4 linked regions of the Homo sapiens genome follow. The protein of the gene in region 1 interacts with the protein of each later gene in a pairwise test. Each region holds a gene or a part of one and is shown in the gene's direction. Other genes may lie near its edges. The genes, in order: HIP1, WDR31, TCAP and ZNG1C.

The links.
Region 2: the proteins of HIP1 (region 1) and WDR31 interact in binary tests that used the Homo sapiens proteins (3 or more experiments, as listed by UniProt).
Region 3: the proteins of HIP1 (region 1) and TCAP interact in binary tests that used the Homo sapiens proteins (3 or more experiments, as listed by UniProt).
Region 4: the proteins of HIP1 (region 1) and ZNG1C interact in binary tests that used the Homo sapiens proteins (3 or more experiments, as listed by UniProt).

Annotation. Positions count from the first base shown.
Region 1 is NC_000007.14:75,532,931-75,539,968, reverse strand, and holds the end of HIP1 (huntingtin-interacting protein 1), read left to right. Parts: intron 1-537; coding exon 538-646; intron 647-1,744; coding exon 1,745-1,797; 3' UTR 1,798-6,671; downstream 6,672-7,038. UniProt on the Homo sapiens protein: Plays a role in clathrin-mediated endocytosis and trafficking. Involved in regulating AMPA receptor trafficking in the central nervous system in an NMDA-dependent manner. Regulates presynaptic nerve terminal activity.
Region 2 is NC_000009.12:113,312,684-113,316,275, reverse strand, and holds the end of WDR31 (WD repeat-containing protein 31), read left to right. Parts: 3' UTR 1-3,054; downstream 3,055-3,592.
Region 3 is NC_000017.11:39,661,284-39,667,092, forward strand, and holds TCAP (telethonin), read left to right. Parts: upstream 1-4,065; 5' UTR 4,066-4,076; coding exon 4,077-4,186; intron 4,187-4,432; coding exon 4,433-4,826; 3' UTR 4,827-5,271; downstream 5,272-5,809. Other genes in the region: STARD3 (stAR-related lipid transfer protein 3), read left to right, coding at 968-1,084, 1,521-1,770. UniProt on the Homo sapiens protein: Muscle assembly regulating factor. Mediates the antiparallel assembly of titin (TTN) molecules at the sarcomeric Z-disk.
Region 4 is NC_000009.12:68,237,335-68,244,982, forward strand, and holds the start of ZNG1C (zinc-regulated GTPase metalloprotein activator 1C), read left to right. Parts: upstream 1-4,648; 5' UTR 4,649-4,697; coding exon 4,698-4,851; intron 4,852-7,648.

The DNA of each region.
Region 1 (7,038 bases):
GGTTTCTAGGGAACTGGGATTGAAGAAGGGTTACAACTAGATTGGTACTCACCATACAGTTAGGCTAAACATTAGAGTTGTTTTTAGATAGTGATTTCTCAGAGGAACAGAAGATAAGCCCACCTACCATTTAGGCATTTGTAAAGCATCATTCACTTCCAGTAGAAGATCACAGTGAGTAAAGCATAAGAGCTACTGGGATAGATAAATGAATGGGAGAATGGAAAAATTAGAGCAAAGAAGAGAATTGAAATTGAGGGCCAGATAAAGTATGGAAACGGTGAATAATATGGAAGAAGAGGAATTCACAATGCAGCAGAAAGGGAGTAATCAAAATAAGATAGATGTAGGCTGGGCATGGTGTTTCATGCCTGTAATCTCAGCACTTTGGGAGGCCAAGACAGGAGGATCTCTTGAGGCCAGGAGTTCACTACCAGCCTGGGCAGCAGAACAAGACCCCATCTCTATAAAAAAATAAATAAAAATTAAATCTCTGAGAGATGATTAAGAGAAAATCCCACTTAATTTCCCTTACAGGTTAGGGTGCTAGAGCTAGAAAATGAATTGCAGAAGGAGCGTCAAAAACTGGGAGAGCTTCGGAAAAAGCACTACGAGCTTGCTGGTGTTGCTGAGGGCTGGGAAGAAGGTAAGCTGACTCCAAGGATGGGCACTAACCCGCAGCAGGGAGGGGAAGCTGTGTGGCCAGGGCCTTCCCCTAGAATGGAACAGAACAAGGAACCCACCAGATCGGTGGCTTCTTCCTTCTCTTCTCTCCTCATGGAACCTGTTTTCTCTTCCGTTGTAAATAACCTTTAAGCCTAACTTTGGGTGAAGTTATGGTGATTTGAAAGCTTTTGTTGTCACCTTTTAAGACCTAAACATTGATCATAACTCACTCACTGCCATTCCCTCCCAGGCCCAGCTAGCCTTGCCAACTCCCTGGGAATTTAGTTTCTGGCCAGCAGAGAGTTGAAAAATGAATAAATAGTGGTCAGTCGAGATCTGGCAGACAGGGACAAGTGAATTACAAGGTTCTGTCTATCTAGAGCCAGTGAAGGGCAACAATTGCCAAAAGACAGAAGGGATCAGGTGCTAGGCCGGGCGTGGTGGCTCACGCCTATAATCCCAGCACTTTGGGAGGCCGAGGCGGGCGGATCACGAGGTCAGGAGATCGAGACCATCCTGGCTAACACGGTGAAACCCCGTCTCTACTAAAAATACAAAAAATTAGCCTGGCGTGGTGGTGGGCGCCTGTAGTCCCAGCTACTCAGGAGGCTGAGGCAGGAGAATGGCGTGAACCCGGGAGGCGGAGCTTGCAGTGAGCCGAGATCGCGCCACTGCACTCCAGCCTGGGCAACAGAGCGAGACTCCATCTCAAAAAAAAAAAAAAAAAAAAAAGAAGGGATCAGGTGCTGAGAAATGGAGTGGCATGGAGTCACATTCAGGCTGCCAGCCCAGAGACTTGCCATCCATCACCTCGAGTCTATATGTTGTTGTCTGCATGTCGAAAGCAGTCAACTTGATCACAGCCAAGACTGTTCACTCTTAGTGGACTTGACTGACTCTGGGCACCAACCATAGACAGATCCTAGTCATTCCTAGACACGAAACTTGGGGACTATGTGATTACACCATGGTTATAATTATAATGTATTTTTGAGCCCCCATGGTGGCAGGTTTTGTTGGTTAAGTGAATGAATGCATTCATGAGTGCTTTGCAACATAAATTATCATTGTCTTTTAGGAACAGAGGCATCTCCACCTACACTGCAAGAAGTGGTAACCGAAAAAGAATAGAGCCAAACCAACACCCCATATGTCAGTGTAAATCCTTGTTACCTATCTCGTGTGTGTTATTTCCCCAGCCACAGGCCAAATCCTTGGAGTCCCAGGGGCAGCCACACCACTGCCATTACCCAGTGCCGAGGACATGCATGACACTTCCAAAGACTCCCTCCATAGCGACACCCTTTCTGTTTGGACCCATGGTCATCTCTGTTCTTTTCCCGCCTCCCTAGTTAGCATCCAGGCTGGCCAGTGCTGCCCATGAGCAAGCCTAGGTACGAAGAGGGGTGGTGGGGGGCAGGGCCACTCAACAGAGAGGACCAACATCCAGTCCTGCTGACTATTTGACCCCCACAACAATGGGTATCCTTAATAGAGGAGCTGCTTGTTGTTTGTTGACAGCTTGGAAAGGGAAGATCTTATGCCTTTTCTTTTCTGTTTTCTTCTCAGTCTTTTCAGTTTCATCATTTGCACAAACTTGTGAGCATCAGAGGGCTGATGGATTCCAAACCAGGACACTACCCTGAGATCTGCACAGTCAGAAGGACGGCAGGAGTGTCCTGGCTGTGAATGCCAAAGCCATTCTCCCCCTCTTTGGGCAGTGCCATGGATTTCCACTGCTTCTTATGGTGGTTGGTTGGGTTTTTTGGTTTTGTTTTTTTTTTTAAGTTTCACTCACATAGCCAACTCTCCCAAAGGGCACACCCCTGGGGCTGAGTCTCCAGGGCCCCCCAACTGTGGTAGCTCCAGCGATGGTGCTGCCCAGGCCTCTCGGTGCTCCATCTCCGCCTCCACACTGACCAAGTGCTGGCCCACCCAGTCCATGCTCCAGGGTCAGGCGGAGCTGCTGAGTGACAGCTTTCCTCAAAAAGCAGAAGGAGAGTGAGTGCCTTTCCCTCCTAAAGCTGAATCCCGGCGGAAAGCCTCTGTCCGCCTTTACAAGGGAGAAGACAACAGAAAGAGGGACAAGAGGGTTCACACAGCCCAGTTCCCGTGACGAGGCTCAAAAACTTGATCACATGCTTGAATGGAGCTGGTGAGATCAACAACACTACTTCCCTGCCGGAATGAACTGTCCGTGAATGGTCTCTGTCAAGCGGGCCGTCTCCCTTGGCCCAGAGACGGAGTGTGGGAGTGATTCCCAACTCCTTTCTGCAGACGTCTGCCTTGGCATCCTCTTGAATAGGAAGATCGTTCCACCTTCTACGCAATTGACAAACCCGGAAGATCAGATGCAATTGCTCCCATCAGGGAAGAACCCTATACTTGGTTTGCTACCCTTAGTATTTATTACTAACCTCCCTTAAGCAGCAACAGCCTACAAAGAGATGCTTGGAGCAATCAGAACTTCAGGTGTGACTCTAGCAAGGCTCATCTTTCTGCCCGGCTACATCAGCCTTCAAGAATCAGAAGAAAGGCCAAGGTGCTGGACTGTTACTGACTTGGATCCCAAAGCAAGGAGATCATTTGGAGCTCTTGGGTCAGAGAAAATGAGAAAGGACAGAGCCAGCGGCTCCAACTCCTTTCAGCCACATGCCCCAGGCTCTCGCTGCCCTGTGGACAGGATGAGGACAGAGGGCACATGAACAGCTTGCCAGGGATGGGCAGCCCAACAGCACTTTTCCTCTTCTAGATGGACCCCAGCATTTAAGTGACCTTCTGATCTTGGAAAAACAGCGTCTTCCTTCTTTATCTATAGCAACTCATTGGTGGTAGCCATCAAGCACTTCCCAGGATCTGCTCCAACAGAATATTGCTAGGTTTTGCTACATGACGGGTTGTGAGACTTCTGTTTGATCACTGTGAACCAACCCCCATCTCCCTAGCCCACCCCCCTCCCCAACTCCCTCTCTGTGCATTTTCTAAGTGGGACATTCAAAAAACTCTCTCCCAGGACCTCGGATGACCATACTCAGACGTGTGACCTCCATACTGGGCTAAGGAAGTATCAGCACTAGAAATTGGGCAGTCTTAATGTTGAATGCTGCTTTCTGCTTAGTATTTTTTTGATTCAAGGCTCAGAAGGAATGGTGCGTGGCTTCCCTGTCCCAGTTGTGGCAACTAAACCAATCGGTGTGTTCTTGATGCGGGTCAACATTTCCAAAAGTGGCTAGTCCTCACTTCTAGATCTCAGCCATTCTAACTCATATGTTCCCAATTACCAAGGGGTGGCCGGGCACAGTGGCTCACGCCTGTAATCCCAGCACTTTGAGAGGCTGAGGTGGTAGGATCACCTGAGGTCAGGAGTTCAAGACCAGCCTGTCCAACATGGTGAAACCCCCATCTCTACTAAAAATACCAAAAATTAGCCGAGCGTAGTGACGGGTGCCCGTAATCCCAGCTACTCAGGAGGCTGAGACAGGAGAATCACCTGAACCCCAGAGGCAGAGGTTGCAGTGAGCTGAGATCACGCCATTGTACTCCAGCCTGGGCAACAAGAGCAAAACTCCGTCTCAAAAAAAAAAAAAAATTACAAATGGGGCAAACAGTCTAGTGTAATGGATCAAATTAAGATTCTCTGCCCAGCCGGGCACAGTGGCGCATGCCTGTAATCCCAGAACTTTGGGAGGCCAAGACGGGATGATTGCTTGAGCTCAGGAGTTTGAGACCAGGCTGGGCATCATAGCAAGACCTCATCTCTACTAAAATTCAAAAACAAAATTAGCCGGGCATGATGGTGCATGCCTGTAGTCTCAGCTAGTTGGGGAGCTAAGGTGGGAGAATTGCTTGAGCTTGGGAAGTCGAGGCTGCAGTCAGCCCTGATTGTGCCAGTGCACTCCGGCCTGGGTGACAGAGTGAGACCCTGTCTCAAAAAAAAAAAGATTCTGTGTCAGAGCCCAGCCCAGGAGTTTGAGGCTGCAATGAGCCATGATTTCCCACTGCACTCCAGCCTGAGTGACAGAGCGAGACTCCATCTCTTTAAAAACAAACAAAAAATTATCTGAATGATCCTGTCTCTAAAAAGAAGCCACAGAAATGTTTAAAAACTTCATCGACTTAGCCTGAGTCATAACGGTTAAGAAAGCACTTAAACAGAAGCAGAGGCTAATTCAGTGTCACATGAGGAAGTAGCTGTCAGATGTCACATAATTACTTTCGTAATAGCTCAGATTAGAATGGCTACCCCATTCTCTAGACAAAATCAAATTGTCCTATTGTGACTCTTCTAAAAATGAAGATGAAGAGCTATTTAATGACACACCTTGGATTAAAACGGGAATCACATCTTAAAGCTAAAAATGAACCTGCAAGCCTTCTAAATGAGTCACTGAGCATCACTAGTGACAAGTCTCGGGTGAGCGTAAATGGGTCATGACAAGATGGGACAGCAACAAAATCATGGCTTAGGATCGACAAGAAGTTAAAAAACAGCTGCATCTGTTACTTAAGTTTGTAAGACAGTGCCCTGAGACCTCTAGAGAAAAGATGTTTGTTTACATAAGAGAAAGAGGCCAGACATGGTGTCTCACACGTTTAATCCCAGCACTTTGGGAGGCAGGGGCGGGTGGATCACCTGAGGTCAGGAGTTCAAGACTAGCCTGGCCAACATGGTGAAACCCCGTCTCTACTAAAAATACAAAAATTAGCCGGGCATGGTGGCAGGCGCCTATAATCCCAGCTACTGGGGAGGCTGAGGCAGGAGAATCACTTGAACCCGGGGGACAGAGGTTGTAGTGAGCCAAGATCGCACCACTGCACTCCAGCCTGGGTCACAGAGTGAGACTCCATCTCAAAAAAAAAAAAGAGAGAGAGAGAGAAAGAAATAGAAGAGAAGAGCCATCTTGGCAGGGTTATTTTATATCTGAGCAAGGAGTTTAAATGAGACTAGTTTAGATTGTCTGCTGATGCAGCCGTCCATAGCAGTACCCCTAAAATCCCACCAGAATACGGGTCCCTCTAACCCAGTGGCTGGAAGAACCACTGTCTAGAGCAACTTTTCTTGGAACTGTCCCAGCTACCAAGTCAGACACCAAGGTTTATGCCACCAGGTAACACGGGAATCACAGGTACATGTCGCTCCGGTCAGATTAGTTGGCTTTGGCCCCTCGACCCTGTGCAGGAGCTAGTTCTCAGCTTGCAGCTGGAAGTTCCCTCTTAGCTCCTTAGTCTAGAGGGGTCTCCTGGCTCCATTTGACCCTGGTCTTTAATAACCGGTCAGCATCTTGCTACCTTCTACCACCTTTCCAAATCTCTGGAAATCCTGCCAGGGAAAGCCTCCAGTTCCAACATTGGCTTTCCAAGCAAACTGGCTTTGCCCTCTCTCTGCCATCCTTGTCCTCCAGAGACTGCACCACCTGTAGCATAGAAAACCACCACCACGGACCTGCCAGCCATCGGCGCAGCAAACCAGCCAGCTGTTTGCTGCCAAATTCCTTCCTCTCCCAGGTCCAGACCAAATACAAGATCAGCACCACACCGTGGTGTTGTCAGGAGCCAAAGCAACAGGAAACAATTCAATGCTGTTGGGTTCGATTCTGAGAGTAGATTTTTCCAGACATGTCTTTCAGGTGACCCTCAACTACCTCAGGTTTGAAGGCCCTAAATGAAACTGATTACCACTCATAGGGACAAACCGAGGGGGTTCGGTTACATCTTGGTGATAATGCAGTTGTCTCAAACTTATAACAGACTCTTTCACATTTCAGTTTGCAGGGATAGGGTTGGGTTTGTTTTTCTTCTGTTTTTAACCTTTCCCCTGGGTTTCCATTAGGGTAGTTCCTTGAAATGAATTTCATTTTTCACTGAGTGCCTACCTTCCCAGGGCAGGTGGCCACTGGCTTCTGTTTCCCTCCAACAATACTTTTATTATGGTATTAAGACCTTTCTTTGTATAATACATTGCATCTGTGTTTTCAATTTTTCAAATAAATATTTCCGCCTGGCAATGGAGCGTGGTGGTGATTGACCAGCCAGCGTGGCTCTGAGGTATAGGCTCCAGTGAGAAGCCTGCATTTGTATCCTGGGGTTCATGGAATCCACTTAGCCCCACACCTCTGGGAATATATCTTAGAAATATTAGTTTTGAGCCGGGTGTGGTGGCTCACACCAGTAATCCCAGCTCTTAGGGAGGCAGAGGCAGGAGGATAGCTTGAGCCCAGGAGTTAAGAGACCTGCCTGGAAAATATAGTGAGAAGCTGTTCTCCACAAAAAGGAAAAAAAAAAAAGAAATATTAGTTTGATATTGGGCATGGTGGCTCATGCCTGTAATCCCAGCAATTTGGGAGGCTGCAGTGGGAGGATCACTTGAGTGCA
Region 2 (3,592 bases), on another chromosome or scaffold:
AGGAGACGGACTGTAGACAATGAGATTAAGCTTCAATCACTGCTCCTCAGCAATGTGAAGAATCAAAGTCAGGGCAAGAAAGCGAAAGCTTGGACTTCTATTCAAAGTGGCAGCAGAGTGGGAGGGCGGTACCCTTCTAGCCCAGTGCTGCTGAGCTTGTGTGAAAATCAGACCTGAGATGGCTTGAAGCAGCCAAGAACCACATGGGCATTGCCCAGAATTACAGGAGTTAGCACACCAGCTCTACAGATAAGAAAACATTGAAATTCAAAGATTAAGGCCAAAAATATCTCACTTGCAATTTTAATATTTTCATTTGGATTTATATAAATGAAACATATATATGTTTTGGAATGGCCAGAGTGAGGCAAAGGGGATCCCTGAAATAACATTAGAACATACAGGAAAAACGAGGCAGGCAGATCACTTTAGGTCAGGAGTTCAAGACCAGCCTGTACGTGCGTGCCTGTAGTCCCAGCTACTCGGGAGGCTGAGATGGGAGAATCACTTGAACCTGGGAGGCAGAGTTTGCAGTGAGCTGAGATTGTGCCACTGCACTCCAGTCTGTGTGACAGAATGAGACCTTGTCTTGAAAAAAAAAAAAACAAAAAACCACATACAGGAAAAAAGAGAGGGATGGAGTCAACTGTGCCCCAGACATTAAGCCCCCTTCAGTGAGGAGGGGCAAGGTGCTCAGGCCTGCCTGTGTGGCCCCCAGGAGTCAGACCTCAGCCTCATGCTCACTGGTCCATTTTCCTCCAGGGAAAATGGAGTTCTTTCTGCCTTCAGAGATGCCCACACATAAGGCACATGAGGCTGTTGGTGACACCATCACCAACACTGGAGATTCCCTTTCTGACAAGTCCCAGCCAAAGAAAGATTTTGCATTTGTCTTCTCTGTCCTCTGCTTGTCTCTGATACCAGTGACTGACAGCCACCTTCCTTCTTCCCTCTCTTGGTGTGATCATGGCTAACTGCAGCCTCAATCACCAGGGCTCAATCAATCCTCCCTCCTTAGCCTCCTGAGTAGCTGGGACTGCAGGCATGCACCACCACACCTGGCTAATTTTTTGTGTGTTTGTGTGGTCTAAAACTCCTGGGCTCAAGTGATCCATCTGCCTCGGCCTCCTTAAGTGTTGAGATTACAGGTATGAGCCACCACATCCAGCTGAGAGTCTGTTCTTAAGCTAGTACAAAGAGTCAGACCCGACTTTGAATCTCCACTTCTCCATTTAGCTGGATGATCTTGGGCAAGTTATAAAATCTGTTTCCTCTTCACTTTATAACGTGGGTTTCATGATCATACCTCGCCACAGGGCTGTTCTGAAGACTGGACATAGCTATTTTAAATGCCAGGAAAGGCCAGGCGCAGTGGCTCAAACCTGTAATCCCAGCACTTTGGGAGGCCGAGGCAGGAGGATCACCTGAGGTCAGGAGTTTGAGACCAGCCTGACCAACATGGAGAAACCCCGTCTCTACTAAAAATACAAAAATTAGCCAGGCGTGGTGGTGCATGCCTGTAATCCCAGCTACCTGGGGAGCCTGAGGCGGGAGAATCGCTTGAACCCAGGAGGCGGAGGTTGCGGTGAGCCGAGATTGTGCCATTGCACTCCAGCCTGGGCAACAAGAGCGAAACTCCATCTCAATAAATAAATAAATAAGTAAATGCCAGGAAAGGTGGTGACAAATGGTAGCCATAATTATTTATTGTCCTCTCTGTCCAGACTAAATGTTCCCTTTTCCATATTAAACATTTACCATTCTGCCGGACGCGTTGGCTCATGCCTGTAATCCCAGCACTTTGTGAGGCCTAGGCGGGCAGATCACAAGGTCAAGAGATCGAGACCATCCTGGCCAATATGGTGAAACCCCGTCTCTACTAAAAATACAAAAATTAGCTGGGTGTGGTGGTGCCCGCCTGTAGTCCCAGCTACTCAGGAGGCTGAGGCAGGAGAATCGCTTCAACCGGGGAGGCAGAGGTTGCAGTGAGCTGAGATTGTGCCATTGCACTCCAGCCTAGGCAACAGAGAGAGACTCTATCTCAAAATAAAATAAAATAAAATAAAATAAAATAAACGTTTACCATTCCTTGATCCTTTTTTTTTTTTTTTTTTTTGAGATGGAATCTTGCTCTGTCGCCCAGGCTGGAGTGCAGTGGTGCAATCTCGGCTCGCTGCAAGCTCCGCCTCCCGGGTTGACGCCATTCTCCTGCCTCAGCCTCCCGAATAGCTGGGACTACAGGCGCCCGCCATCACGCCCGGCTAATTTTTTTGTGTTTTTAGTAGAGACGGGATTTCACCGTGTTAGCCAGGATGGTCTCAATCTCCTGACCTCGTGATCCGCCCGCCTAAGTGCTGGGATTACAGGCGTGAGCCACTGCGCCCGGCCTCCTTCATCCATTCTTAGATCTTATCCTCTAAACCTTTAGTCATCGTTTCACTCTCCTTTGATTCCTTGTTATGGGTCTTTCAACTCTGGAAAGACAAAGAGATAGTGGGAGAGGAAGCCCGGTCACTGAGCATCTACAGAGGGCTAAATATATTTATTCTCATTTGTTATTCCCAATATTCTCTGTATTGTGATTTCCATTTCACAGATGAGGAAGCTGAGGGCTAGAAACATGCAGTACTTTGCCCAAAGTCACACACATATTAAGAAGAGCTGAGGTATGAATCTGGGTCTGCCTGACTCAAAGCCCAAACGCTTTCCTTTGCATCGTGTCACAAAGTCATAGACCATGACATTGTTTGTATCTTCAAGACCAGTTATTAACTTTCTGGCTCCAAGGAGATCCCCTGCCCAAGTGCCTAGGGGCAGTAGACAGCTGTCTCAGGGACAGTCGTAGCATGTGCTGGATTATTAGTGCAGCAGCTGACACTTTTTCCCAGAAGGGAGAGAGGCAGCAAGTCAGAAAGTTCACGGGAATGAGTTGGGAGGGGGTCCCAGGGAAGGGGGACAGGCTGCCAGGAGAAGGAAAGTACACGGGAGAAAATAGTGGGGCTCTGATGAGTTAGTAGGGTTCTGTTACCAATAAAATTGTTTCCATAAACTGTACATGTGCTTGATGTCAAATTATCTATGCATTTTAAGTAGAAAATAGATTAGTAAATTCTAGTGTTTGTAGAGGACTTTTTTTAGTCTGATATGCCCTAATCAGATACTCTCAGCACCTAAGATACAGGTTGCTAAAATTCATTCATTCCTTGAACATTCATTGAACACTTCATTTTAGAGGCTGCCCTCTAAAATCATATCAAGGAATTTTCCAAAGACAATTTTTTTCCAGGAAGGTGGATAAGCCCTTGGAACCTGGCCAATTGCATATTTAAAATTTAAATAAATGTATACATTTACTTACATATTTATGATTTAAATATATATACTTGAGGGGAAATGGATACTTATTATTAATGTTCTTCATTTTGGCACAGAAAAGTGTAGAACTCGGGTCACTTGGTGTTTTTATAATCCAACAGTGAGATAAAAACTATTTCCAAATGGCCTTCTGAAAACATAATTATTAAAGAGCAGCTTTATTATTAGTAATGTAGTAGACTGTGGCAGGTGCGGTGGCTCATGCCTGTAATTCCAG
Region 3 (5,809 bases), on another chromosome or scaffold:
ACAGCTGGAACCAAGCCACCAAGGCTGGACGGGATGTGCGGCGGTGGCTGGCTGGGGTAGACCATGGATGGGGACCCGTGCAGGGAAGGGGCCTGAGAGCCATGTGCTCACTCTGGGCTGATTGACCTGAGCAGGAGGCTCTATGCTCTGGGTTTCATCTTCCTGCCTAAGGAGACTCGGGTCCCCTTTCGTCCTCCTCACCCTGTCCTCACTCCGTCATCTTTCTCTGGAGTGGCTCAGGAGTTCCCCCAAAGATAAAGGGATTATGGCCTTCCCGCATCTGTGCCTGGGCTTCTGGAGTCTTCCCTTTTGTCCAGTCAGGCTGTGGTGCTGCGGGTGGCCCCCTCCCATAGACCCCACTCTTCCCCATCCCCTCCTGGGTTCCAGCAGGAGCACTGTTCTTTGAATAGGATGCCAGGCTCTGCTTTGGGCACTGGACAGACTTGCTGGGTGCAGGGAAGCTCACTTCCTCTCTGGATGCCAACTTCCTTATCTGCAGAATGGGCTTAGGTGTGCTCAGTGGAGCTGAGGGAGAATGAAATGGTGATGGGATGTGAACCGTGCCTCCCAGGCTTAGCCTTCTCCTGAGCAGGTGTCCCCTCCTGAAGGGGAAGGGGTAAGAAGCGCCAGCCCAGCCTACTCTGCCATAGCAGGGCTGACCTAGAATCTCTGGACAGAGTGTATGAGGGCTGGGAAGGTGGTGAGCTCTCTGTCCCTGGGGGTGTGCAAGCACCAACAGGCCGTTGTAGGAGGATTCAAGCATCACAGAGTGGGTGGGGGTGGAGGGCCGATTCTGCAGCCCATGGGACACCTGTGCTAAGCCTTGTTCAGATAGGGTAGCTCTGCCTTTCTGCTTCCAGCCCAGTCCCAGCTGGGCCAAGAATGGAGTGTGAGTGGTAGGGGCTGCGGGGGGGTGTCAGGGCCTCACTCTGTTCCAAAGTCCCCCCAATGATGCCTCTTTCCATAGGGGAGAGAATGGCCCTGGGGGCTTCATCGTGCTCAAGTCGGCCAGTAACCCCCGTGTTTGCACCTTTGTCTGGATTCTTAATACAGATCTCAAGGTGGGGTGCTGGGGGGCTGCCAGGTGGGTTCTGTGGAGTGGAGGGGACCCTGCTGCTGACTTGGTTGCTGCATGACTTTGGGGGCTCTCTGCCATGCCTGGGCCTCCCCTTTGTCAGCCACCTTTCTTACTTGAAAATTTGGGTCAGGGTCCAGATGGTCTCTTAGCCCTGGGTTGCTGTAGGGCATGTGCCCCCCCTTCTTACCTCTGAGTCCTGAGGCCCTGAGGAAGGGTGGCTGGTGGCCAGCCCGGCCCCACCCTGGTCTGTTTGTGTTGCTGGTGCCAAGAGCCAGGCCCAGCATGTTCTTCCTGCCAGGGGTGAGTGGGAGAGGGCGACCCAGGCTGGATTCCAGAGCTGCACCTGCATTCTGGCCCAGAGCCCCCCTGCTGGTGCCAGCTGCAAGGGGAGACCCTGCTGAGGGCAGGCCATCAAGTGTGACTTCTGCCTGCCTTCCCCCAGGGCCGCCTGCCCCGGTACCTCATCCACCAGAGCCTCGCGGCCACCATGTTTGAATTTGCCTTTCACCTGCGACAGCGCATCAGCGAGCTGGGGGCCCGGGCGTGACTGTGCCCCCTCCCACCCTGCGGGCCAGGGTCCTGTCGCCACCACTTCCAGAGCCAGAAAGGGTGCCAGTTGGGCTCGCACTGCCCACATGGGACCTGGCCCCAGGCTGTCACCCTCCACCGAGCCACGCAGTGCCTGGAGTTGACTGACTGAGCAGGCTGTGGGGTGGAGCACTGGACTCCGGGGCCCCACTGGCTGGAGGAAGTGGGGTCTGGCCTGTTGATGTTTACATGGCGCCCTGCCTCCTGGAGGACCAGATTGCTCTGCCCCACCTTGCCAGGGCAGGGTCTGGGCTGGGCACCTGACTTGGCTGGGGAGGACCAGGGCCCTGGGCAGGGCAGGGCAGCCTGTCACCCGTGTGAAGATGAAGGGGCTCTTCATCTGCCTGCGCTCTCGTCGGTTTTTTTAGGATTATTGAAAGAGTCTGGGACCCTTGTTGGGGAGTGGGTGGCAGGTGGGGGTGGGCTGCTGGCCATGAATCTCTGCCTCTCCCAGGCTGTCCCCCTCCTCCCAGGGCCTCCTGGGGGACCTTTGTATTAAGCCAATTAAAAACATGAATTTAAAAAAAAAAAAAAATTCCAGCCCCTCCCACTGCCTTGCCTCTTGAGGGAAGAGAAAGGCAGGCAGCAGCTTGGATGAAGAGGGAAGACCCCTCACACAGCCTCTCCTGGGCTCACAGGAGGGCGGAGCCCGGGGAGCCAGTTCCTGAAACATGCCCCCCATTCCCCCCCCGCCCACCCCCCACTCCCCGCTTTCCTGACCAGTTCAACTGAGCAGATGACTGGTCAGAAAAAAATGCCCCGCCCCCTGCCAGGCTTCAGCGGGGCAAGTTTAAAGTCTCTAGTCCAGGAATGGAGGTGGGGGTATGGGCACCTGGCAGTGCCCACAGCAAGCCTTGACTGTGTGGCCTGGAGATGGGGCCTGAGCTTCAGGGTCACTGAGGCACCTCTGGGATCCAGGCCACCTGGAGCCCCGGACCTCCCAGACTCCACTCACCCATTCCCTCTCCCCGCACGGCACTCACACCAGGGGCGGCCTGGAGCCCGGATCGCAGGGCGGGGCCAGGCCACTGCCTGCCTTCCTCCTCCCTCCCGGCTGGCCTGCCCCCTTGCCTGCCTGCATGCAGGCTTCCAGCAGAGCCAGCTTCTTCAGAGCCAGGTGGATCCTGTTTCGGTCCTGCCTAGGTGTGTGACCCTGGGCGAATCTACCTCTCTCAGCTTCTGCTTCCCACTTTATGAAAATGGGACTGATGTCACAGGGTTGTTATGAGATTAAAAGATATGAAGAACCGGGGACAGTGCTCAGTAATCAATAGTCTGCAGTTCTGCACCCACGTGCTCCTGGGTACTCTGCCGTCCCCACAGGGTCCTCAGCTCAGCCCCTGTCACTGCCTCTCCTGCCACCCTTTGTCCACTCGGCAGTGTTCTCACTCCTCATCCCCCCACACCCACCACCTGTCTGCCAGCCTCTTGCACCATGAGTTGCTACTCCTGGGGTGCTGGACTGTCCCCACAGCCATCTGTCTCCCCTGCTCCCCATGAAGAAGAGCCAGTCCCCTCCCAGGTAGCACATCAGAGCGGGCAGGCTCCAGAGCTCTTCTGGTCCTCTTGCAGTGGCCAGAAAGTGGGGAAAGGGGCCCAGAGAGGGGCAGGGACTGACCCATGGTCACACAGCCTATTTATGGCTGATCTGGAGCCAGGCCTTCTGACTATCACCCATCAGAGCCCCTGGATTCCCATTTCACCCAACACAGGTGTTGGGGTAGAACTGGGGGCCCTCCACCCCTACTAGCCTGACTGTCTCCTGAGACCTGTCTCCTAAGACCACTTACCTGACCACTGGCCATGGGGAAGGAAAACACCTGGCCAAGGCTCATGCCCCAGGTTCCCAGGCATGAAGTTGACTGTCTCCGCCCCTGCTGGTGTGGTGAGGGTGACTGGGGACTAGGCACTAGGCCTTTGGTGCAGGCGCCTGAGGACGTGGTTGCACTCTCCCTTCTGGGGATATGCCCTTGAGCCCAGGCAGAGGAGAGCACAGCCAGGGCAGGACCTGGCAGCCCTGGTACAGAGCCCAGAGGGGGCATCAGTTCCTGCTGGTCCTGCTCTGTTTACAGACAAGCTGCTGTCCTCCCTGCAAAGGGGAGTGGGTGGGGCAGAGGGCAAGTGCCAGGGGGGCACAAGGCTGGGCATGTGGCTGGCATGAGACGGTGTCTGAGTAATGTCAGGCACCTGGAGGCATTGACCCCAGGACCTTGGACCCCAGACCTCTGACCGGGGGGCAGCCAGCGTCCAGGTACCCCAACCCCTGCCCTGGGTCCGGCGTCCCCCCATTAGTGAGTCTTGGCTCTACTTATAGCATCTGACACCAGAGGGGCCGAAAATAGCCCCTGGAGAAGGGGGAGGAGGGGGCTATTTAAAGGGCCTGGGAGGGGAGAGAGAATGAGGAGTGATCATGGCTACCTCAGAGCTGAGCTGCGAGGTGTCGGAGGAGAACTGTGAGCGCCGGGAGGCCTTCTGGGCAGAATGGAAGGATCTGACACTGTCCACACGGCCCGAGGAGGGGTGAGTGTGGGTCTGCTAGAGCCCTGCCTCTGCTCCCCCAGAGCACCCTCACTGAGCCATGAGGCCAGAGCATGAAGCCCTGGAGAAATTTCTGGGGGTGGGGGCAGGAAGAATGCCCCATGGGGAGAGCAAAGGGGAACCACCCTTCCTGCCCCCAGGTCCCAGCAGCCCAGGGGAGCCCCCCACCCAGCCTGTGCCCAGAGAGCAACAGCTCCCAGGAGCTCACTGCCCCTCCCCTCTCCCCAGCTGCTCCCTGCATGAGGAGGACACCCAGAGACATGAGACCTACCACCAGCAGGGGCAGTGCCAGGTGCTGGTGCAGCGCTCGCCCTGGCTGATGATGCGGATGGGCATCCTCGGCCGTGGGCTGCAGGAGTACCAGCTGCCCTACCAGCGGGTACTGCCGCTGCCCATCTTCACCCCTGCCAAGATGGGCGCCACCAAGGAGGAGCGTGAGGACACCCCCATCCAGCTTCAGGAGCTGCTGGCGCTGGAGACAGCCCTGGGTGGCCAGTGTGTGGACCGCCAGGAGGTGGCTGAGATCACAAAGCAGCTGCCCCCTGTGGTGCCTGTCAGCAAGCCCGGTGCACTTCGTCGCTCCCTGTCCCGCTCCATGTCCCAGGAAGCACAGAGAGGCTGAGAGGGACTGTGACTTGGGCTCCGCTGTGCCCGCCCTGGGCTGGGCCCTTCCTGGCTAGGACTGTGGAGGGGAGCTGCTGGCCATGGCTGCTTTGTAGTTTGCCCAGAGTTGGGGGCTAGGGGAGGGGGGAGCCAGAGGCCAGGATGCCTGAGCCCCCTGAGTTCCCAAAGGGAGGGTGGCAGAGACAGTGGGCACTAAGGGTGGAGAGTTGGGGGCCAGCACAGCTGAGGACCCTCAGCCCCAGGAGAAGGGACAAAAGGTACTGGTGAGGGCAAGAGGTGCCTGGGAGGAGTGGCCCTGATCCAGGAAAATGTGAGGGGAATCTGGAACGCTCTAGGCAGAAGAAGCTGGGAGGGAGGGGGAGGTGAAAAGGGCAGAGGCAAGGATGGTGGGGCCCCCAGCACCCTCTGTTAGTGCCGCAATAAATGCTCAATCATGTGCCAGAGTTGCATCTCTTTCCTTGTGGTTGGGGGGGCTGGCCCATGGGTGTCCCCTCAATGCCCACTTCTGGGACCAGGCTCCGCATCTGAGCTAAATATGGCAGAGCTAATGGGTACACCCCATACTTGGGGTGGGGGTGGGGGCAGGACAGAGCTGTAAACAGGGTGCTGTCTCCAGTCTCCTTCCCGTACCCTGACCGCTGCCCAGTCCTGGCTTCTGTGTCCAGCCCCCTGGCACTGGGTGGTAACCAGCAAGCCAGCTGGCATCCGCATCCAGGGTTTGTTTCAATGATGTCTCGTGGAGAATATGGAGGGGCTGGTGCCAGGACTGTCCTTGGCTTTGCCTCGGGGTGTGAACGGGGTCAGTGACCTCTAAAACTAACCTGCCTCTCAGTTCTGAATCCAGACAGAATCAATCCTCAGCTGTGTCTCGCTCCACACCCCCTGCCCTGGAAGCCAGGGAAGGTTGGAGGTGCTAGGGGGTCAGGCTCCCCTCTGTGACCCCTGCAGCTGTTGTGGTGACTCATGTCCCAACCTAGCTGC
Region 4 (7,648 bases), on another chromosome or scaffold:
TTTTGTAAGGTGGGAACAAGGAAACAGTATAGAAAAAAAAACTGATTGGTTAACATCAGATTACTTTTTTATTTTTTTGTCACCCAGGATGGAGTGCAGTGGCACAATCTTGGCTCACTGCAACCTCACCTTTCGGGTTCAAGCAATTCTTCTGCCTCAACCTCCCAAGTAGCTGGGACTACAGGCGTGTGCCACCACACCCAGCTAATTTTTGTATTTTTAGTATAGACGGGGTTTTGCCACGTTGGCCAAGCTGATCTCAAGCTCCTGACCTCAGGTGATCCACCCGCCCTGGCTTTCCAAAGCGCTGGGATTACAGGCATGAGCCACTGTGTCTGGCTGAGATTGCTTTTTTGTAAGTAATCTGTTGTTACTTTGGGTTACTTTTCTGTAAGGGATAGAGCAGAGGGGACTTCCTTATTATACTGGAATCTTCTGTCTTCAGGAGAAGAAAAAAAAAAACTCGTCTATTTTGGGACCTGTTTTTTAAAGTTTTAGTTTGATTTTGTGGTGCTTAGCATGAGCGACTCCATTTTGGTTTGGTCTGGTCTGCTTGGGATTAGTGCAGGAGCTCAGTCCAAAACAATGGCCTCTCATAATTTTGTTTAATACATGAAATTCAAATTTCAAACTTGTAGACATTTGCTCTCTCTCTTATTATATAAGTACCTACACAATGTCCTCAAATTTGCTTTTTGATCTGTAAAGACTAAGATATTTATCATCTAGTTTTACAGAAGAGTTTGCAGATCTTCTGGTTTAAAAGAGCAGGAGATTTAGTGTCAGGCAGGTTTGGATTGAGCCCAAGGGCTGCCATTTACTGATTGTATGACTTTGAGCAAGGTATTTATCTTTTCTAAGCCTCAATTTCCTCATCTATAAAATGGGCACACAAATAGTATTTACCTTGGAGAGTTAAATGGGATAATGCATTTAATGTGCTTAACACAGTGCCTATCAGATGCTTAGGGGCTCAAAACATTATTATTGTTGTTGCTGTTGTTGTTTTACCCTAAAGTAAATGAGACAAAATAGCAAAGCTAGATGAGGAGGAATTTTTAAGATACATCAGAAACTGTAATAGATTCTAAAATATTATAATTAAGAAATTTCATACTTATTTAAAAAGGCATTTTCAATTTAACAATTTAACAATTTAACCCTCTTATAAGTTAAAAAAAAAAAAAAAGCCCGGCACAGTGGCTCACGCCTGTAATCCCAGCTCTTTAGGAGGCTGAGGTGGATGGATCAGGAGGTCAGGAGTTCAAGACCAGCCTGGCTAACGTGGTGAAACCTCGTCTCTACTAAAAATACAAAAATTAGCTGGGGGTGGTGGTGCATACCTGTAATCCCAGCTACTCAGGAAGCTGAGGCAGGAGAATCGCTTGAACCCGGAGGCAGAGGTTGCAGTGAGCCAAGATCGTGCCACTGCACTCCAGCCTCGGCAACAGAGCAAGACTCCATCTCAAAAAGAAAAAAGAAATAAAAATAAAAAGTCATGCCCAGCTATTTTGGGAGAACTGAAATTACAACTCTATCTGAGAAAATAAAATGACAGGACTCCACAGAATCCATAGATAAAAACTTAACTGAAGAGGAATATGGAACAGACTAAAGGAAAAATTTTATCAAGCTGTAATCTTTATACTTGTGCCTAAGGCCAGAACTTGAAACTGCTGAAGACAGTGTTTCTCTACAAATGCACACAGGCACCCCATTTTGATGCACAGATAGGTGTTTATTTCTTTTAAGAATAGCAGCTTTATTGAGATAAATTTCACATATGATACAATTCACCAATTTAAAGTGTACAAGTCAATGGTTTTCAGTATAATCAGAGTTGTACTACCATCACCATAATCAATTTTAGAACATTTTCATCACCGCCCAAAAACCACTGTAGTCTCTCCCCAGTCCTCCACTCCTGGGAACCATTAATGTACTTTCTGTCTCTATAGATTTGCCTATTTTGGTTATTTTATATAAATGGAATCATACAACATGTGGTCTTTTGTGAATAGCTTTTTTCACTTACCATAATGTTTTCAAGATTGATTCATTTTGTAGCAGGTATCAGTCCTTTTTCCTGTTTATTGCCAAATAATTTTCCATTGTACGGATAGATCATATTTTGTTTATCCATTTGTCACATTTTGGTTGTCTATCAGTTGATAGATATTTGTGGTGCATTTAATTTTTGGCCAATGTGTAAAACTTATTTTGCTCTCATTGAGGCTACATACTGTTACAACAATGCTATTTGGTCAACTTGACTGAGCTGGCCTCATAGGTTACAGGTTGTTCATTGTTAGAGATGAGACTTTAGACCAGACTGGACAACATAGTGAGACCCTGTCTCTACCAAAAAGAAAAAGAAAAATTAGCCAGATGTAATGGCATATGACTGGAGTCCCAGCTACTTGGGAGGCTGAGATGGGAGGATCACTTGAGCCCAGGAGTTTAGGACTGCAGTGAGCTGTGATCGTGCCAATGCAATCCATGCTGGGCGACAGAGTGAGACCCTGTCTCAAAAAACAGAAAGAGGGATTTTAGTATAACATTCAGCCAGTGCCATATTGGGAACCCACAAGAATGTACTTTTAAAAATATGTCAAAGAAGATGGTGAGGGCTGTAATAGCTGCTATTCAGGCAGTAATGCAGTGCTGAAGGGACATCAAGCAAATAGTGTGATGCCTGTGGGTGCAATGTTACTCCTTCCCTTAGGTTGCCAAAAAAATCAATACTTCATAGCATTCCTGAAACGAAAAAGCTTATGAACCATTGTGTTTAGGGCGTAAGCTATCTATTTTGGGCTACCCATCACAGCTTCTCTCCTTTGGCAGAATACAGTGAACTGAACCACCACACCTAAGGTATTTGCCTTATTTCTTCCTCAGCTGGTTCATGGTTACATTGTCAAAGCTGGCAAAGCATTCAAGACCTGATTTCTCAGACCGAGTGTATGTGTGAATATAATATACTCATTTGCACAAATATAAACCCTCTGTCTTAACTGTGTTCTGCAAAAGGCGTGATAAATACTTTCAAGTTATATGTACTTATCAGTAGAACTAATGGAATACACACAGTATATTTTATGGGGAATTTCAGAGAAGGAAGGAAAAGTCAACCTTTTATTTGGCATCAGGATAGTAGTAAAACATTCTACTTGTGCATCAGATAGATTTTTATGACCTAACCTGGACAAGTAACTTAACTCTTGGTGCCTCATGTTTGAAAGAGGGATAACACTCTACAGGGTCATTCTAAGAATTACATATTGCCAAAACACATGAAAAGATTCTCAACCTTGTTAGTAATCAAGGAAATGCAAATGAAGATCACAATGAAGTCTTCTTTTGTACTCAATTGATTGGTGAAAAATGCATGCCTGATAATATTGACATACAGACCAATGAGATCTCTTATAATTTGCTGGGAAAATGTATCAATTTGTACAAACATTTTGAAAAATAATTGTGCATTTTCTTGTGAAGTAAAACATTTGAATAATCTAGGACCCAGCAATTCAACTCTTAGACACTCAAGAGGAAGTTGCACACACATATGTCAGGAAAAATGTTCATAGCAGCCCTGTTCATAAGAGCAAAACCTGGAACAATTGAGAGGAAATGAATAAATTGCCGTGTAGCCACACAATAGAATACAAGACAGCAGTGATGCTGAAAAATATAGCAAGCCTCAGGAGTTTATATATTATATGGATAATTTTATGAAGCTCAAAAACACCCAAAATTAAACAACATATTCTCTAAGTACATACGTGGGATATGTGATAAAACTAAAAAGAAAACAGGGAAGGATCAGCAATCCAGAACCAATTCATGACTGTTGTTACTATCTTATGGGGCAGGCTGTGGATTGGAAGCGGGGGCGGTGCACATAGGTACGTGTAGCTTACTGGTAATGCTTTTATGTTAGGAATGAGGTCAAAGGAGTTCACTATAAATTTATATTAGAAAGAAGGGCTATCTATGGATTAGTGATGAGAGTGTCATGCACCAGCAAATATGATTAATGAACTTAGGTTACCTGAGGTCCAAATAAATAATGAGAAAAAAGTAAATAAAAGTGATGCATGAATACTAAAAATTTGGAATTACATATATAATATGTAATAATAAAAAAAGAAAAAATTGTCACTGGTTATCCTTCAGGTATAAAAATTACAATTAAAATTGTAATGTTATAACCTTCCATTCTTTCCCCTATGAATTAAAACTTTTTTTTTTAACGAGACTAAAAAATCAAGTTGATAAAATCTATGCCCTGTGGGAACTGGTTAGGTCAGGCTACCCACTCCAGATTTCCAGCAGGCTGGCCTCAGCTCTACCTACAGCCAGTAGCTTATTAAGGCTCTAGGCGCCAGTGACACCTTCAGACAGGTGGTTAGTGCGCCCTAAGGACTCTCCGCAGCGTCGCTCAGGTTCACAGAACACGCCCAGGGGCGTGTCCAGCTGTCGTCGGGGAGAGCCCACCTCCCCGGGGGGTGTGGCTAAGGGACGAGGCAGTTCTCGTCCAGAGCCCAGGTAATCCGGGCGGGATCAGCTAGCGTCGCGATGTGATGACGTCAGGCCCCGGCCAGGCCGGGAGTGGCGTGCTGGGCGTGCGCGGCTGCGGTACGGCGTGTTGGTCCCAGCGGTTCAGCTGAGGTAGGGACGTGCTGTAGGCCGGAATGTTACCGGCTGTTGGATCTGTGGATGAGGAAGAGGATCCTGCGGAGGAGGATTGTCCTGAATTGGTTCCCATTGAGACGACGCAAAGCGAGGAGGAGGAAAAGTCTGGCCTCGGCGCCAAGATCCCAGTCACAATTATCACCGGGTATTTAGGTAACTAACCATCCCAGTCACAAAATGCCGTGAACTCTGGTGTCATGGGATTTTGCGGGCTGCCGGTGCCTCTTCTCCTGAGGCATTGGGGCCTCATGATCAAGAGCAAATGTCTTTGAGGTAGGGGCTGGGTCACTTGCTTCTCGTATGGGTTACCTCTCATCTTGGGAGTTAATGATGCCCGGTCCCCTCTGCGTTAGATTCCCATTTCTCAAGTGAGATGGAAAGTTAGCCTTTGAAACAAGGCTTTGAAGCTAAGACACGCCCCCCTAATTGTCTCTGTGACCTCTTACCAAGTTATCTTACCTTCCTGACGCTCATCTACCTCACCTGAAAATGGAAAAATACCTGTCACCTGTGAAATAGGGCCGGAACAACCTACCTATTGCCATTAAAGGATGTCCCGTCTGTAAAATGCCCGACACGTGGGGCTTTCGTCAGCAGATTCCCCTTCCCCAGGAGCCAAAGTCCTCCAGCCAGTTGGCAGGAAGTGCTCCTATCTTAAACACTTTTCTTTTGAGGTCTGTTTGTAAACCACTGCGTAGGAAGTAAGAATAAAATCTCTGTCCTCCAAGACTATTTCTCAAACTAAGAACGTTTAGAGTGTACAGGGATACTCGAAACCACAAGTTTGTGAACTTGGTAGTTTCGTGAAGGGCGGTTTATGCACTTACACTAGAAGTTTCTTACTGGAAAAGTTTGAGAAATATATTTTTAAACCTTACAGTTAAATAGAAGGGCTAGAACAAATATATGACTGTATTAGAAGTTTGGAAAAAGTTAAGAAATGTAAATAAAATAATACTGTTTCCGGGAAATAATATTCCTAGTTGTTGCTAGAGACAGGTACAGACTTGGGCCACTTCGTGACCTTTTATGTAAAAATAAGAAATAACTGCTTTTGTTTTTTTAAAAACTTTGTAGACTGTAAGTTTATTCCCGTTTTTTGCTCGGAAGTAATTTTATAAAGGAATTTATTTTTGGCGTTTCCCCACAGTTATTCAGAGGCTGCTCTACTGAGAAGATGAACAAATTTCTTGTCCAAAACAATGTATTTCAAACGTGCCCCTCGGGCCTTTCCCGTGTTGCTCACTGGTAGGTCAGTAGATCATTGGAGAAAATGATCTGAAGCTCAGGAGTGAGAATTAATACCAGCAACCTTGTTGCTGAATCTAGGGATAGTTTCACTCCTATCCCTGACCATTTTCCCTTTTTGAAACACTGTTCCTTTGGCTTCTATTACATTTTTCTTCTGATTTTTCCACCTGCTTCTCTGGCTTCTTTTTAAGGCTCCCTCCTCCTTCCCCCTTTGTCCATCTTTAGCTACACACCTGTGTAATTTCTATTTTGATGTCCTACAACTTAAAACTTAACATGTCTGAAACTTCGTCTGTTACCATCCCCCCAAATCCTGCTTCTGTGATCCCAACCATTTGGAATACTCTAAAAGCCTCCTGACTAATCTGGAGTCTTGCTGCCCTTTAATTTATTCGTTGCATGTTAGCCTTAATGATCTTTATAAATGTCAATCCGACTGCGTCACACCTTTCAGTGGCGTCCCTATGGGTTAAAATTCAAATTCCTTAACATGAATTACAAGGACCTGTAGGATCTGGATCTTGCCAACCTTTCCAGCCTGCCAAATTGGCCCCGCACAATAAACTAAGGTTACTTCAAAGGTGCCAAGTGTTTTAGCCCCTTGGAATAGGTACTTTTTTACTGTGACTCCTCTGGCTAGATGTCCCTCTTAGGTTCTCCATAGCATTTTGTGCATCTCCTATTGAATATGTCACCCTGTGACATAATTGCCTCCTTATTCACTGAATTCCCCTCCATTCCCCCCTTCCCTTAATATTTCTAAGCTCTATGAAGGCAGAGACTATCTTGTTCACTTTTTCACCAAGGCCCAGCATAAATCTGTAACGTATTAGAAACCTTTGAATGAATGAACTATGTCTTAAAGTGTTTTTTTTTTTCATAATATGGTTAAAAAGCCCTAGTAAATCTTCTCTTAGAAGATTTCTTACATTCACCCTTTCCTTTCAGTTTTCACATCACTGCCCTGTGAAACACTCATGTTCAGGGCCTCTGTCTCAGGCTTGGACTGGTTTTAAGATCTTCCTCATTGCCCTAAGTCTCTCTCTTCCATACTATACTTCATATTTTTGTGATGTTGAGCTTCCTAAAGTACTCTAAATATAAGCCTTCATCTCTTAAAAAGCTTTGAAAGGAATATGACCTAAAAGATATTAATACCCTAATACTCCGTAAAATCTTCCTAGTTGTAGGAAGATCTAGTTATATACTAGAAAACTTTATTTCAGAAGACATGTATAGCCTACATGTAAAAGTTTTTAGCAGCACTGTAATAGTAAAACACTGGAAACAAACCAAATGTCCAACAAAAAAAAAGATAAAGAAATGATATAGTCATACAATTGAACTACAATACTATGCAGTTAGGATTTTCTTTTTTTCCTCTATGAATTTTAGTGTGTACGGTTCACAAGACTTTTTTTTCTACTGGAGATTGACATATTGGGTTTCATATGCCACCTGCTGGATAAAGTTGGTATAGCTTTATGAATTTATCTTAACTGAACATTCTGTTCATTGTTGACACTACCTGGCTCTATTCCCCATTTCATAAAAACTTTTATAGATTGTTTAAAGCATACTATAAGTAGCCATATAGTCAGCCTGAAGTTGCGTCTCGTTAATGTTGAAATAAAAGGTCACTATAAATAAAAGATTGTGTGTCAATTTTAGGGAAGGTTAGGCTAGGTTGAAGAAACTG